2 linked regions of the Homo sapiens genome follow. The protein of the gene in region 1 interacts with the protein of each later gene in a pairwise test. Each region holds a gene or a part of one and is shown on either strand. Other genes may lie near its edges. The genes, in order: NDE1 and ZNF365.

Region 1 (7,294 bases):
GGCCAGGCGCAGTGGCTCACGCCTGTAATCCCAGCACTTTGGGAGGCCGAGGCAGGTGGATCACTTGAGGTCAGGAGTTCGAGACCAGCCTGGCCAAACCAACATGGTGAAACCCTGTGTCTACTAAAACTACAAAATTAGCTGGACGTGGTGGTGCACACCTGAAATCCCAGCTACTCAGGAATCTGAGGCAGGAGAATCGCTTGAACCCAGGAGGAAGAGGTTGCGGTGAGCCGAGATCGTGCCACTGCACTCCAGCCTGGGCAACAGAACGAGACTCCGTCAAAAAAAAGAAAAAAAAAATCCAAGGGGGGTTAATACCAGCTACTTGGTAGGCTGAGGCAGGAGAATCGCTTGAACTGGAAGGTGGAGGTTACAATGAGCCGAGATCGCACCACTGCACTCTAGCCTGGGCGACAGAGTGAGATTCCATCTTAATGAATAAGTAAATAAGTAATAAAATTCCTAAGGGGAGGCTTGGTGTGGTGGCTCATGCCTGTAATCCCAGCACTTTTGGAGGCTGAGGCGGGTGGAGCACTTGAGGTCAGGAGTTCAAAACCAGCCTGGCCAACATGGTGAAACCCTGCCTCTACTAAAATAGAAAAATTAGGTGGGCATGGTGGTGAACACCTGTAATCCCAGCTAGTCGAAAGGCTGAGGCAGGAGAATCGCTTGAACCCGGGAGGTGGAGGTTGCAGTGAGCCGAGATTGCAGCACTGCACTCTAGCCTGGGCAACAGAGTGAAACTCTGTCTCGAAATAAAATAAAATTCCAAGGGGGAAGGCATCAGACGTAGTAAAGTGTGAAGCAGCATGTAAATGATTCATTAATGTTTGGGAAGTTTCCTGAAAGACATTTGGTACTTTCCTTAAACCTGTTGATAGGTGGTGGGGTTCCCCTTTGTGCCTCTAAGCAGTTTTTAGGAATTAGCAAGGAGTTCAAAGTAGAATTTGAGAAAGGCTGTTGTAGGATAGCAGGAAGGCAAGATGGGGTGGGAGATCCTGTAATAGCTAAGATCTCTTTGCCTCTAGCATAGTGCTGAAGAAGGAGGGTTTAGGAGTCAGAGCCAGCTCTGAAGCCTGATTTGTTAATTACTAGTTGTAAGACCTCGGACAACTCAATTAACTTCCTGCACCTTTATTTTCTTATCTTTAACATGGATACAATTTAATGCTTTCCTGTGGTTCATCACCTGTGGTTCAGTTGCATGGTCTCCTCTCTACAGTGGCCTTCCCTGACTATAGCATCTGAAGTGACCCCTCCCAGCCCGTTGTATCAAATGGGCTTGCCTTAGTCATAGCACTTATCAGTATCTGAAATGACGTTACTTTTTCTGCTTATAGATTTAGTATGTTTCTCTCTTAACAATATAAGCCCTTTGAGGACAGGTACTTTGTCTGACTGTATTCACTGTGCTGTAAGGGTGCATTGTACAGAAGAATGCTCATAATGCCGGGTGCTGTGGTTCATGCCTATAATCCCAGCACTTTGGGAGGGAGGCTGAGGCAGGAGGATCACTTGAGCCCAGGAGTTCAAGACCAGCCTGGGCAACATAGTGAGATCCACGTCTCTACAAAAAAATGTAAAAATTAGCTGGGCGTGTTGGTGCACACCTGTGGTCCTAGCTACTCCGGAGGATGAGGTGGGAGGATCACTTGAGCCTGGGAGGTCCAGGATGCAGTGAGCTTTGATTATGCCACTGCACTCCAGCCTATGTCACAGGGTGAGACTCTGTCTCACAAAAAAAAAAAAAAGCTGGATAATAATATATATATTTTTAGTTTTTATGGGTACACTGTAGGTGTTTATATTTATGGGGTACATGAGATATTTTGATAACAGGCATGCAATGCATCATAATCACATCAGGGTAAATGGGTGTCCATGACCTCAAGCATTTATCCTTTCTTTGTGTTACAAGCACTCCAATTATACTCCTTTAGTTATTTTAAAATGTACAATACATTGTTGTGGACTGTAGTCACCCTGCTGTGCTCCCAAATACTAGATCTTATTCATTCTAACTCTATTTTTGTACCCACTAACCAGAATGTTCGGTATTTGTTAATGAACATGTTATGACAGGATGTTTTAGAAGAAAATAAAGAAAAAAAGAAATTCCAGCCAAGCATGGTGGCTTGATTTTATTTATTTATTTATTTTGAGATGAAGTCTCCCTCTGTCTCCCAGGCTGGAATGCAGTGGCGTGATCTCCACTCACCGCAACCTCTGCCTTCTGAGTTACATGGCTCACGCCTGTAATCCCAGCACTTTGGGAGACTGAGGTGTATTGCTTGAGGTCAGGAGTTCGAGACCAGCCTGGCCAACACAGTGAAACCGTGTCTCTACTAAAAATACAAAAAATTAGCTGGGCGTAATGGTGGGCGCCTGTAATCCCAGCTACTAGGGAGACTAAGACAAGAAAATCGCTTGAATCTGGGAGGCAGAGGTTGCAGTGAGCCGAGATCGCACCATTGCACGCCAGCCTGGGCAACAAGAGGGAAACTCTGTCTCGAAAAGAAAAAAATTATTTTTTAATTTTAATTTGTTAGTGAACAATTAGGGTTGCTGTGAGAATTGTGCCTGGCACACACAGCCATTTAAAAATCACGATCTTCAGGCAGTGTGTGGTGGCTCACGCCTGTAATCCCAGGACTTTGGGAGGCCGAGGTGGGTGGATCACCTGAGGACAGGGATTCGAGAGCAGCCTGGCCAACATGGTGAAACCCCGTCTCTACTAAAAATATAAAAATTAGCCGGGTGTGGTGATGCGGGCCTGTGATCCCAGCTACTCGGGAGGCTGAAGCAGGAGAATTGCTTGAACTCAGAAGGCAGAGGTTGCAGTGAGTGGAGATCACGCCACTGCATTCCAGCCTGGGAGACAGAGGGAGATTTCATCTCAAAATAAATAAATAAACAAAATCAAGATCATTTAACAAATACATATATTGTACTTACTAAGTTCAAATTTCTGTTCTAAACGTTTTTACAAATGCTGTTAAGTCATTTAGTCCTCTGCATAATGTCGTTTGTTTGTTTGTCTGTTCTTTAAGACGGAGTCTTGCCCTGTCGCCTAGGCTAGAGTGCAGTGGTGTGATCTCGGCTCACTGCAACCGCCACCTCCCGGTTTCCCGTGATTCTCCTGCCTCAGCCTCCTGAGTAGCTGGGATTACAGGTGCGTGCCACCACATCCGGCTAATTTTTTGTATCTTTAGTAGAGACGGGGTTTCACCATGTGCCAGGCTGGTCTTGAACTCCTGACCTCGTGATCCACCCGCCTTGGCCTCCCAAAGTGCTGGGATTACAGGCGTGACCACCGCGCCAGACCCATAATGGCGTTTTATAGATGGGGAAACGGAGTCATAGAGGCTAAACAACTTTCCCAAGACCACACAGTTAGTAAGGGGCAGGACTAGGACTCAAAGCCAAGTTTATGACCAAATTCTGGTGCACTACGTTCTCCTGCTTCTGGAGAAGATAATGATGCTGAAGATTCTACTTTTGGTGTAAAGGAGTAGGAAGGGCACGGGGCACTGCTAGCTTCAGTGGGCCTGAATCTTTGTCTTTCCTTCTGATTTGGAGAAAGTGCAAGAATGGGAAAATGCAATCGAAGTGAAGGAGAGGCCGGCGTATTTTCCTGAAATGCGCGGCCCGCAAGCCCAAACCCGTTTCCCGGGTGTCCAGGCAGCGTTCTGCAGCATCTCCAATGCCCGCCAGCCCGCCGCAGCCCAGCGCCCGGCAGCCGGCGCCTCTCAAACCCCCTCCGGCCAGGAGCCTTCGCCGCTTGGCCGCGCCGCGCCCGGCCTGGGAAAAAAGTTTCCAAACGACGCTGCTCTGCGCTGATTGGCCGAGGCGGACGCGGTACCGTAGAGCAGCAGCCAATGGGAGGCGCCGACCGCAGGCTCCGGGGCGGGGGCGGGGTCCGGAGGGCCGGGGCCGCACCGCCCTTCGCAGCCGCCTCTGCCGCCGCCGCCGCGTTGGCCTCGCCGCCCCTGCTCGGGTAAGTGAGGCGCTGCGCGGGGCTGGGGTCGGGGTGGCTGTCCGGGGACCTCCACCGCGGCTGAAAAGCTCCTCTGCCCCGCCCCAGGATCCCGGGACCCCGGGCCACCGCCTGGCAGGGACCCCTACGCCCCTCGCTTGCGCGTCGCTTCCCGGCCGCCTGGACTCCCCCGGTCCCTGGGCTCCAAAATCCCGCCTCCCTGGAGCCTCCCGTCCTAAAAAGTTAGGCACTGAGTGCCTTGCCACCGGTGCGTTCCTCGCGCTGGCCCCTCGCCCTTGGCAACTTTGTTTCTCTTTCTGCGTTGGTCTCTCTCCCACCCCGTTGCCCTCTTCTCCTTCCGGGACTTCCTGGGTGGTTAAGCCTTGCCGGTCCCCAAACCCCGCTGCCAGGCTCCATCCTCTTTCTCCTCTTCCTTCCTCCCCATACTCCTCTCCTAGATGACCCTCGTTTCTTTTCTCTCTCTCTCCTATTCCTCCATCCTGCCACCCGCTTCTCTGCGACCCCAGACCCCTCGATTGCAGCGTTGCCCCTGCCCTCACACCCACTGTCCCGCCCCTGCAGGCCTCTTTCCAAAAACCCACCCTGCTCCCTCCCTCCGGGAACACGTTTGGGGCAGTCTGCTCTCCGCTTTGCTCCCGTCTCTGCCGCAGGACGGTTCAGGTTTCTTCTGACAGCACTTTGGGGAGGGATTGGGTAAAGGACGAAAATGCTTATTCCGCAGCTTGAGTGATGGCTGGGCTCACTGAGGACCTGAGTCTCTGAGGTCCTGGGAAACCCCGCTGTCACCTTGACACCGCTTTTGGGGAGGCGACTTTATCTTCTCCGAGCCATCTCAGGCTTTCTGCCTCCTGAGGGCCTGAGCTTCCTTGATTGCTTTGTCCGTGGTTACTACCAGGTTGTGCCTCTTAATTTCTACTTTGAGCCTCAGGCCCCTTTTAACTTTCTAAAGAAAAGGCCTTTGCAGCACGACCTAGGCAGGTTCATCATTTTTAGTTTTGTTATAGTGTATTCTAGCATAGGATGGCATTTTAGGACATGGGTCGGGTGTTTTGAAGATTAATTAGATCCCAGCTACTCCTAAAGCCTCTTGTTACCCGACCACCCCAGCCTCCATCACCTCGTTGGTATACAACCCGTTTTTTTTTTTTTTTTTTTGTTTTTGTTTTTGAGACAGAGTCTCACTCTCGCCCAGGTTGGAGTGCAGTGGTGCGATTTTGGCTCACTGCAACCTCCGCTTCCCGGGTTCAAGCGATTCTCCTGCCTCAGCCTCCGGAGTAGCTGGGACTACAGGTGCGTGCCACCACGCCTGGCTAATTTTTTGTATTTTTAGTAGAGATGGGGTTTCACCGTGTTAGCCAGGATGGTCTCGATTTCCTGACCTCGTGATCTGCCCCCTCGGCCTCCCAAAGTGCTGGGATTACAGGCGTGAGCCACCGTGCCGGCCTACAACCCATTTTGAGCCTTTCCTCTTAGTGTGTGTTTTGTGTAGGATTAAATGCAGATGATCTGTGCCGCTGAAGTCTCAGGGGCCTGTGATTCATATATTTTATCCCATGTTGGATAACAGTTTATTAACTTGACTTATTTTTGTTTCCAAAGTGTGTTATTTATTATTTATTTATTTATTTATTTTGAGACGGAGTCTTGTTCTTGTCCAGGCTGGAGTGCAGTGGCATGATCTCGACTCACTGCAACCTCAGTCCTCCGGGTTCAAGTGATTCTTCTGCCTCACCCTCCTGAGTAGCTGGGATTACAGGTGCGTGCCACCATGCCCGGCTAATTCTTAGTAGAGATGGGGTTTCACCATATTGGCCAGGCTGGTCTCAAACTTCTGACCTCGTGATCTGCCCACCTCAGCCTCCCAAAGTGTTGGGATTACAGGCATGAGCCACTGCACCCGACTCTATCATTATTATTATTTTTTATGTAGAGGCAGAATCTTGCTTTGTTGCCCAGGCTGGTCTCAAATTCCTGGGCTCAAGCAGTCCTCCTGCCTTGGCCTCCCACAGTGCTGAGATTACTTGCAGGCATGAGCCACTGCATGCAGCCCAAAGTGTGTTCTTTTGCCTTAGAATGTGAGCCGAGAATTGACACTCCTTTTCCTCACAAGGTAATTTCCTAACATGAGCATTCCTGTGTACAGAAAGTTTGTGCCTGCAGTTAGTACTACACGTGCACCTCGTGCAATGGATGTGGGTGCTTTTTGTCTGCCTCCTTCAGCAGTGCCCAGCACTTAGTAGGTATTCAAGAAATGTTTGAAAAGGGTTGGAGGAGGCAAAACCACAGTAGGAAAAATTCTTTCCCTGTCACTTGGTTCAGTAGAATAAAATTATCCTGGAACAATAGCTATTTTACTTTTTGTCCAAGTTTTTGTTTGTTTGTTTTTTGAGACGGGATCTCACTCTGTCGCCCAAGCTGGAACACAGTGATGCAATCACAGCTCACTGCAGTCTCGACCTCTCAGGCTCAAGCAATCCTCTTGCCTGAGCCTCCCAAGTAGCTGGGACTAAAAGCACATGCCACCATGCTTGGCTAATTTTTAAAATTTTTTGTAGAGATTGGGGTCTCACTATGTTGCCCAGGCTGGTCTCGAACTCCTGGGTTCAAGCGATCCTTCCGCCTCAGCCTCCCAACGTGCCGGGGTGGGAGAGAGCCACCGCGCCTGGCCTAAGCTTTTTAAAATCTCTAAAGCGATCTATGCTTACTGTATATATGTGTATGTAGTTTACCTTAAAGCAAGGTGTCAGGTACAAATCCACAGGGCTTGCTTTACCCCCATTCTGGTGCATCCTCCAGACCCTTTTCTATTCTGTGTACAGAGAGAGGGAAATAAACAAAAATGGGCACCCATTTTTAACATATCCTGAGCTTTCTTCCATATTAGTACTTACAGTTCTTAACAACTGCATCGTTTTCCATTCAGTCCTCTGTTGACATTGAGGTTTCCAGTTTTCCACATTCGTGAATGATGGTGTGCATCTTTGAACATGGGTCCTTGCCTGCCTAAGTATTTTTGTAGGTTGATCATTGTAAACTTGGAAAGCACAAAGACAGAAGCCAGGCTTGCTGACTCTTGACTGATGTTGCCCCAGTGATGTCACTCCTGCAAAATGCAAAGCCTGCGTCCTGGCTGTCGGAGCATGTGTGGACATTTGGCAGCTTCTTTCTCTTCCCTCCTGCTCTTCTGTTTGTTTTGATTGGGAAGGATATGGAGTGGGGATGGAGAAGGGTGTTGAGTAATTATCGATGGTTTCTGTATGTTTATTGCTCCTGACTAGCAGTGCTGGGTTTCTT
Region 2 (8,132 bases), on another chromosome or scaffold:
GGCATGACCTTCAGCTGTATTCATCGCATCTCCAGCAGCATCCTCTCTTGTGCATAAACGGCTGCCAATGTCTGCCTCGTTGGTTACTGTAACAAAGGACTGTTTCTCAAACTTCAGTGGTCATGAGAGTCACCTGGGGAGATAGGTGAAAATGCAGATCTTCAAGATCCACACCTACAGATTTCAATTTATTAGGTCAAGGTTCCAGACATCTGCATTTTGACCAGCTCCACAGGCTCCACAGGTCCCACTTTGAGAAACACTGGATATGTGCCTAAACATTTAATATAGTAAGATCCATTGTAATTACTCTAAAGGTGAGAGCTATGATCATTAACAATTCAGCAAACATTTATTGAACATCTACTATGTGCCAGGCATGATGTCAGGCCCTATAGACACTTCCCATTTAATTCATTTTAACATATATTTAACTTCTCTATATATATATATGTCCCATATATATATATCTCATATATATGTCCCATATATATATATCTCATATATATGTCCCATATATATATATCTCATATATATGTCCCATATATATATATATCTCATATATATGTCCCATATATATATATCTCATATATATGTCCCATATATATATATCTCATATATATGTCCCATATATATATATCTCATATATATGTCCCATATATATATATCTCATATATATGTCCCATATATATATATCTCATATATATGTCCCATATATATATATCTCATATATATGTCCCATATATATATATCTCATATATATGTCCCATATATATATATCTCATATATATGTCCCATATATATATATCTCATATATATGTCCCATATATATATATATCTCATATATATGTCCCATATATATATCTCATATATATGTCCCATATATATCATATATATCCCATATATATCCCATATAGTATATATATCATATATATCATACATATATGATATATATGATATATATGATATATATCATATATATCATATATATCATACGTATCATATATATCATATATATCATACGTATCATATATATATCATATATATCATACGTATCATATATATATCATATATATGATACGTATCATATATATATCATATATATGATACGTATCATATATACATCATATACATCATATATATCATATATACATCATATATATCATATATACATCATATATATCATATATATCATATACATCATATATATCTCATATATACCATATATATCTCATATATACCATATATATGCTCATATACCATATATACCATATATACCATATATATCATATATATACCATATATATGCATATATATACCATATATATCATATATATCATATATATACCATATATATCATATATATCATATACACCATATATATCATATATACCATATACATCATATATATCATATATACCATATACATCATATACATCACATATACCATATACATCATATACATCACATATACCATATACATCATATACATCACATGATATATATATCATATATATCACATATGTGATATATATCATGTGATATATATCATATATATCACATATGTGATATATATCATGTGATATATATCATATATATCACATATGATATATATCATATGTGATATATATCATATATATCATATATATCACATATATATCATATATATCATATATATCACATATATTATATATCATCTATATGATATATCACATATATATCATATATATCATATATATCATATATATCATATATATATCATATATATGATATATCACATATATATCATATATATCATATATATCATATATATATCATATATCATATACATGATATATATATGATATATATATCATATATATATCATATATATCACGTATATGATATATATATCATATATATCATGTATATGATATATATATCATATATCTCATATATATATCATATATATGATATATATCTCATATCTATCATATATATGATATATATCTCATATATCTATCATATATATGATATATATCTCATATATCTATCATATATATATGCCTTGTTCTCATTCCACTAGTTGTAAGTGCCTGGAGGGCAGAGTAAAACAGCATAATGTGGCATAGAAAAACATCAGTGTTTGAAGACATGAACTCTAACCCTGATTTTATTCTTTATTACCTATATGACTTTAGGCAAGTCACTTTACTTCCTAGAACTTTATTTTCTTCATCAAAAACTGGAAAGCCAATGAGTACAGTGGTTAAAAGCCCAGGGTTTGCCATCCTGGCTGTAATGTGTTCTAGGTTTGTGATCTTGAGAAAGTTACTTAACTTCTTTGGGCCTGTTTCCTCCTATGTAGAAAGGGGATTTATTTCTTCAGCATTCATTCTTTTAACAAATATTTTTTGAGCACTTTGATCAGCACTGTGCTAAGTCCTGGGAATATACTGGAGAGTAAGACAGACAAGGACCCTGACTCACATAGCTTACAACTTAACAGTGGACATAAATATTAAACAGACAACTACATCCATAACCCAGCACATAGAATTATTGTGACAAATCCTGTCATAATAAATTTTCCTAGTACGCACTAACCTTGTCCAGGAGTGTCAGGGAAGACCTCCTCAGAGAGGGCATACTTGGGATGAGCTCTGAGGGATGAGTAGGCATTACCAGATAAAGAGGCCCTAGAGACGGGAAAAAGCAGGGCTCTTAAGTAAAGGGATGCCAAGGTGGCTAGAACTGAGTGTACAAGGTCCTCCCTACCTCACAGGTGTTCAAAGATTAAATGAGGTAATTGGTGGTATACACAAGTGACACTTTGAGAACCACTTAAGGTCCTAAATGCCTGTTGACCAAGTTGAATTTCCCACAATACTCAGCTTTAGGCCCTGCACAGAATAACCTCTCCATAATTATTTGATAATATTTTATATTTTTAGGGTGAGAAAAGGACTTTGAAAATCTCCATCCTCTCATTTAACAGGGGAGGAACTTAGGACCAAAAAAGAAGTAGCAGCTGTCTAAGAAATGGGAGGAGCTGGCTGGGCGCGGTAGCTCACGCCTGTGATCCCAGCACTTTGGGAGGCCGAGGCCGGTAGATCACCTGAGGTCAGGAGTTCAAGACCAGCCTGGCCAACACGGCAAAACCCCGTCTCTACTGAAAATACAAAAATTGGCCGGGTGGTGGCAGGGACCTGTAATCCCAGCTACTAGGGAGGCTGAGGCAGGAGAATCGCTTGAACCCAAGAGGCAGAGGTTGCAGTGAGCTGATATCGCGCCACTACAGCCTGGGAGACAGAGTGAGACTCCGTCTCAAAAAAAAAAAAAAAAAAAAAAAAGGGGCGGGGGGGAAGGGAGGACCAGAGCATGCTTTTGTTATGTTTTGCCATGAAGGCAGTGGGTGTAAGAGGTTAACCTGCAGGCACCTCACAAGATGACGGAGATAACTTGGCACTCCAATGAGTGTATCTTTCAGACTTTAAGATTTTGTACTAAATAAATTGATTCTTGGAATAGTCTTGAGAGCGAGTCAAAAAGTAACTTCAATGAGATATAATATTTTCAAAGCAAACACACCCCAGCACAATAGCCTATCTCCATTTACGTAGAAGTTAGTACATATTAATTCCTCTTCTCCTTCCTGCTTTTTAAATGTGTGTAGGCCCCTTTTTTATGGAATTAATAATAATTATAAATGAAGTAGCAACAACGATAACAGCTGACTTTATCAGTGTGTGTCCCTGTCAGGCAGGGTTTTTACCTCCATCATCATAGCACATTCGATCCACCGCTATATTAAGAGGTAGGTCTTGATTATCTTCATTTCATAGATGAGGAATTGAAGGAACAGAAAAGTCTAGTTACTTGACCCAGGCCCTAGAACCAGGATTTGAATCAAGTCTGATGCCAGAGCTTGGGATCTTCATTGCATTTGATGTGATAATTCATTTGTGAAAAAACAAAGCAATTCATTTGTTTTCATTTGTCAAAAACAAAACAAAATTTCAACTAAGATAACTGTTGAGCTCTTTACCGTTAAAATAAAATCGGGTGTTGAAATGAGTAACAGCAAGCCTTGAGAAAAGACACCCTGAGAAGTCAAGAGGATGCATTAACTGTCTACAGATGAACAGAATCTCTTCTCTTCTTTGAACAAGAAAACCCAGCAGTAACTTTTATCTAGGTTTCACATTTCAGGAGTTACAGTAGGGGTAAACCAAAACAGGTTAAAAAAAAAAAAAAAAAAAAAAAAAAGCAAAAGCCCAGCAAGCTGAGACATCAGAGTCCTTCAGAAGGAATGATTTGCCGTCTTCTCTTCAGGACATCCCCTCTTTAGGAGGACAAATTTTTTCTCCAGGGAAAGGGGCGTCCGCCTCAGAAATGGGGGTGTAGGTGAGGGATCTTGTTGCTTTAACTGTTTGTTCATTAATCCCTGCACTTTACTAGATTTAGTTCTGCCTGTTAACGTAGCCTCAGGACACTTGGCTAGGAAGGCTGGAGTGTACTCTCTGGGTTAGTTATTTTGGGACATTCTCGCCCTGCTGCTTGGGATGAAGAGGTCCTAATTAAATACCCGGACCTTCCAACGGGTAGATTTTCAAAGAAGATGCCCAGCTATGCTGCATCCTCATCCACACTCTCCCGCTCCCCCCAAACTAGTGCAAAAAAGCTTGCCAGGGCCTGCAGAAAGCGCCGCGACTGCGAGGCTGACACGCGTCTTTCCTTCCCTCCCCCGGGGAATGATCCCAGCATCTCTCGCAGTGATGTCAGTGTAATCCTGAGTCGGATCGGGCTCCCGGCTGGGTGGCGGGGGGGCAGATGATGCTCCCGCCAGCTGGGCAGAGCAAGGGTGTTCCCCGCGGAGGTGGCAGCCCTGGGCCGCGGCGTTCCGGAACCCCCGCACCCACGGCGCGGTGCCCCACGGTGCCCGCGAGCGCCGCCCCCGCTGGCTAGCCGCGCCTCGCTCCGCCCTGGACGCCGCCGGTCCCGGCGCGGAGGTGCGGCGGGGAGTGGGAGCCGGCCCGGCTCAGTCTGATTTACGGCTCTGCTGAAAACCGCTTCGCTCCCGCAGCATCAGCACCGGAGGCGGCGGCTGCAGCAGCAGCAGCAACAAGTCGGGTAAGAGGCGGCCGCCGGCCATCTGCGCCCGCGGCTCGGCGGAGGGGACCTGCCGGGGTGGCCGGGGCTGGGGAGGGGGTCCCCGAGCCCGCAGCATGGCGGGGAGTTGGGAGAGCCGGCTTCCCGGCCCCCACCAGCAGGAACTCATGTGCACACGAATCCACTCTGGCACCCGTGGGCTGGCACGCAGCGGAGAGGGGGCGGGGAGAGCTGGGACCCCGGGGCAGGGTCATTGCCAGCCTGCCCTTCTCTGGCAGAGTCACTTAGGGCTCTTCATCAGCCCAGTGGACTGGGTTTCCTCTGGGCCCATAAAAGCCTGCGTGCTCTGGAGTGTGTGATTACCCATTTCCCCATCCAAAATGCCACCCTTTTCCCATTGCCCCCTTAGAATCCTGACTTCCCCTTTCCTTACCTCTTGTCAGCGTCTTTGGCCCTATGCTGAGCCAGGGTTTGCATCTCGTTCCCAGAAAACCAGTGGTTAAACATCCCGGTGTACCCATCACAGGAAGAGGTTCCCCTCTCTGGGGGCCGGGGGCTTCACCTAGAAGCCTTGCCTGCCTCGCTGCCTGGGGACCATTTGCACCTCTGCTTTTGAAGAGGTTGAGGACACTTTTCACCCAAAGACCCCAGCTGGGCTCCCTCATTTCGGGTCCAATGCTTGTTACATTTAAGTAGAAACCTTTCATGGAGGAATAGAAGATATGCACTGCTTGCAGAATTGGGTTGCCAACAGTCATCTGTTGCTAGGGTGAAGATAATGCATTCCTACAAGGAAACCAGAACTTCCTGTTATTAAGAGAGTATGCTGATACCTACCTGGTTCACACACTGACCATCCCTAGAGGTTGTCATATAAAATAGCATCTGAGACAAGACAAATCCGTCCAGAACACTCTATTATAATAAAAATCTTGGCCATGGCCCCACTTATGCCAAATGGTATTTGACACATTGGGTCCCCAGGTTTCAGTGAAACTCACGTATGGGGTCTGTTATTGTTACGATTAGCACTTTGGTTTATGTCATCACAGCAATACCTGAAGGAAAAAAAGGCAAAAATTTCAGGGTGAAAAATTTTCAGCTGATTGCAGGCTTAATGCCACTGTGCATAGCTTGAGTAATCTTTCCTGTACTTGAGGATAGGTCCTGAGCTTGCTGTCTTAGGACCCATTTTGACAATTCATGTGAGTTTTCATATGTTCTTGTGTTCACGCATCTCGGATTGTATCCTTAAAATGGGGCACGGTTTTGCATTTAGTGTGCCAAATTCAGGAGGGGAGGAAACTTGAATTCCACTTCTGGATCTACCACTTTCCATCTGACCTTGGATTAATGGCTTTACTTCCTTGCTTCAGTGTTCTCTTCTGTGGAGAGGGAATGTTACCCACCTTTTTGATTCTAGGTAGGAGTTGGCAAACTTTTTCTGTAAAGGTAGTAAATATTTTAGCTTTTAGGAGCATAGAGTCTCTGTCTCAGTTACTCACCACTGCCATTGTGGTTTACAATAAATAATACAGAAATTGATACGGCAGCAGTAAATAATGCAGAAATTGATGTGGATGGATTTGGCCCATGGGCTGTAGGTTTTAAGTGCAACATAAAATATTATGTGCAAAAGTCACTTGAAACCAAAAAGCCTCTGCTGTCATGGAGATGAGCAGCAATCATTTTAGTAGTGTGTTTTTCAGCCGACTTGTAAACTACCTATTTCCCCCCTCCCAGGACTTTTAGAGTAATGCAACAGAAGGCTTTTGAGGAAAGCAGATATCCCTGGCAGGAGTCCTTTGAGAATGTTGCTGTGTGCCTGCCATTACGCTGCCCGAGGTGTGGAGACCATACCAGATTTAGAAGCTTGTCATCCTTGAGGGCCCATCTGGAGTTCAGTCACAGCTACGAAGAAAGAACCCTCTTGACAAAATGCAGTCTCTTTCCATCCCTCAAAGACACAGACCTAGTCACTTCCTCAGAACTCCTGAAACCGGGAAAATTGCAGAGCAGTGGCAACGTGGTAAAGCAGAAACCGAGCTATGTTAACTTGTACAGCATTTCACATGAACATTCCAAGGACAGGAAGCCATTTGAGGTGGTGGCAGAGAGGCCTGTGTCCTATGTGCAGACCTACACTGCCATGGACCTCCATGCAGACTCGCTGGATGGGACACGGTCGGGTCCTGGACTGCCCACCTCAGACACCAAAGCTTCTTTCGAGGCACATGTCAGAGAAAAATTCAATCGAATGGTTGAGGCTGTGGATAGGACCATTGAGAAGAGAATTGATAAACTCACCAAAGAGTTGGCCCAGAAAACTGCGGAACTGTTGGAAGTTCGGGCAGCTTTTGTGCAGCTGACTCAGAAAAAGCAGGAAGTTCAGAGACGAGAGCGGGCCTTAAACAGACAGGTGGACGTGGCCGTGGAAATGATAGCTGTACTGAGGCAACGCCTGACGGAATCTGAGGAGGAGCTTCTTAGGAAAGAAGAGTAAGTGTTGCTGACAGGGGATGCTAACCCCATTGCTTTAAGCAGCACCCCAATCGCCTTACAAGCAAATGCTAAGCAAGGTTGATTTTTGCTATTTGCAGGTGCCTTGACTGCATTTCTTATTGATATAGTTGAACCAGGAGGAACAAGGCTTTGATATCATTTACCCTCTGTGTGCACGGTCTGCAACCTAGCAGCATTAAAGTCAAATATCTAATTCCTTCTCAACTGGGAATTTGTAAACCACAGACTATGCTTTTAGAGAGAAGACTAGCACAGCCTAGCCATGGTGGGATCCATTCCTAGCACCAAATGGCGTGCAAGGGTGAGTTGAATGGGAAGGCAGAAAGGGTGAGCTAAGTGAGCTGTTCATTCTTGACAGTCTCCGTATTATAAAGTCAATGCAAGATGCTGTCTTAAGTTCAAAAACATTCCTCCAGTATAAATAAGTTTGGTTTATTTGCCATTTTGTATTATCTGCCCAGGTTAATTAAATGTTAGTAGCTGAGAATCCATTTAATTTAATTTATATTTGGGAGAAG

What was found.
Region 2: the proteins of NDE1 (region 1) and ZNF365 interact in binary tests that used the Homo sapiens proteins (3 or more experiments, as listed by UniProt).

What each region holds. Positions count from the first base shown.
Region 1 is NC_000016.10:15,646,295-15,653,588, forward strand, and holds the start of NDE1 (nuclear distribution protein nudE homolog 1), read left to right. Parts: upstream 1-3,950; 5' UTR 3,951-4,000; intron 4,001-5,721; exon of another isoform or gene 5,722-5,756; intron 5,757-7,294. UniProt on the Homo sapiens protein: Required for centrosome duplication and formation and function of the mitotic spindle. Essential for the development of the cerebral cortex.
Region 2 is NC_000010.11:62,369,347-62,377,478, forward strand, and holds the start of ZNF365 (protein ZNF365), read left to right. Parts: upstream 1-5,022; 5' UTR 5,023-5,112; intron 5,113-5,524; exon of another isoform or gene 5,525-5,781; intron 5,782-6,834; 5' UTR 6,835-6,847; coding exon 6,848-7,590; intron 7,591-8,132. UniProt on the Homo sapiens protein: Involved in the regulation of neurogenesis. Negatively regulates neurite outgrowth. Involved in the morphogenesis of basket cells in the somatosensory cortex during embryogenesis.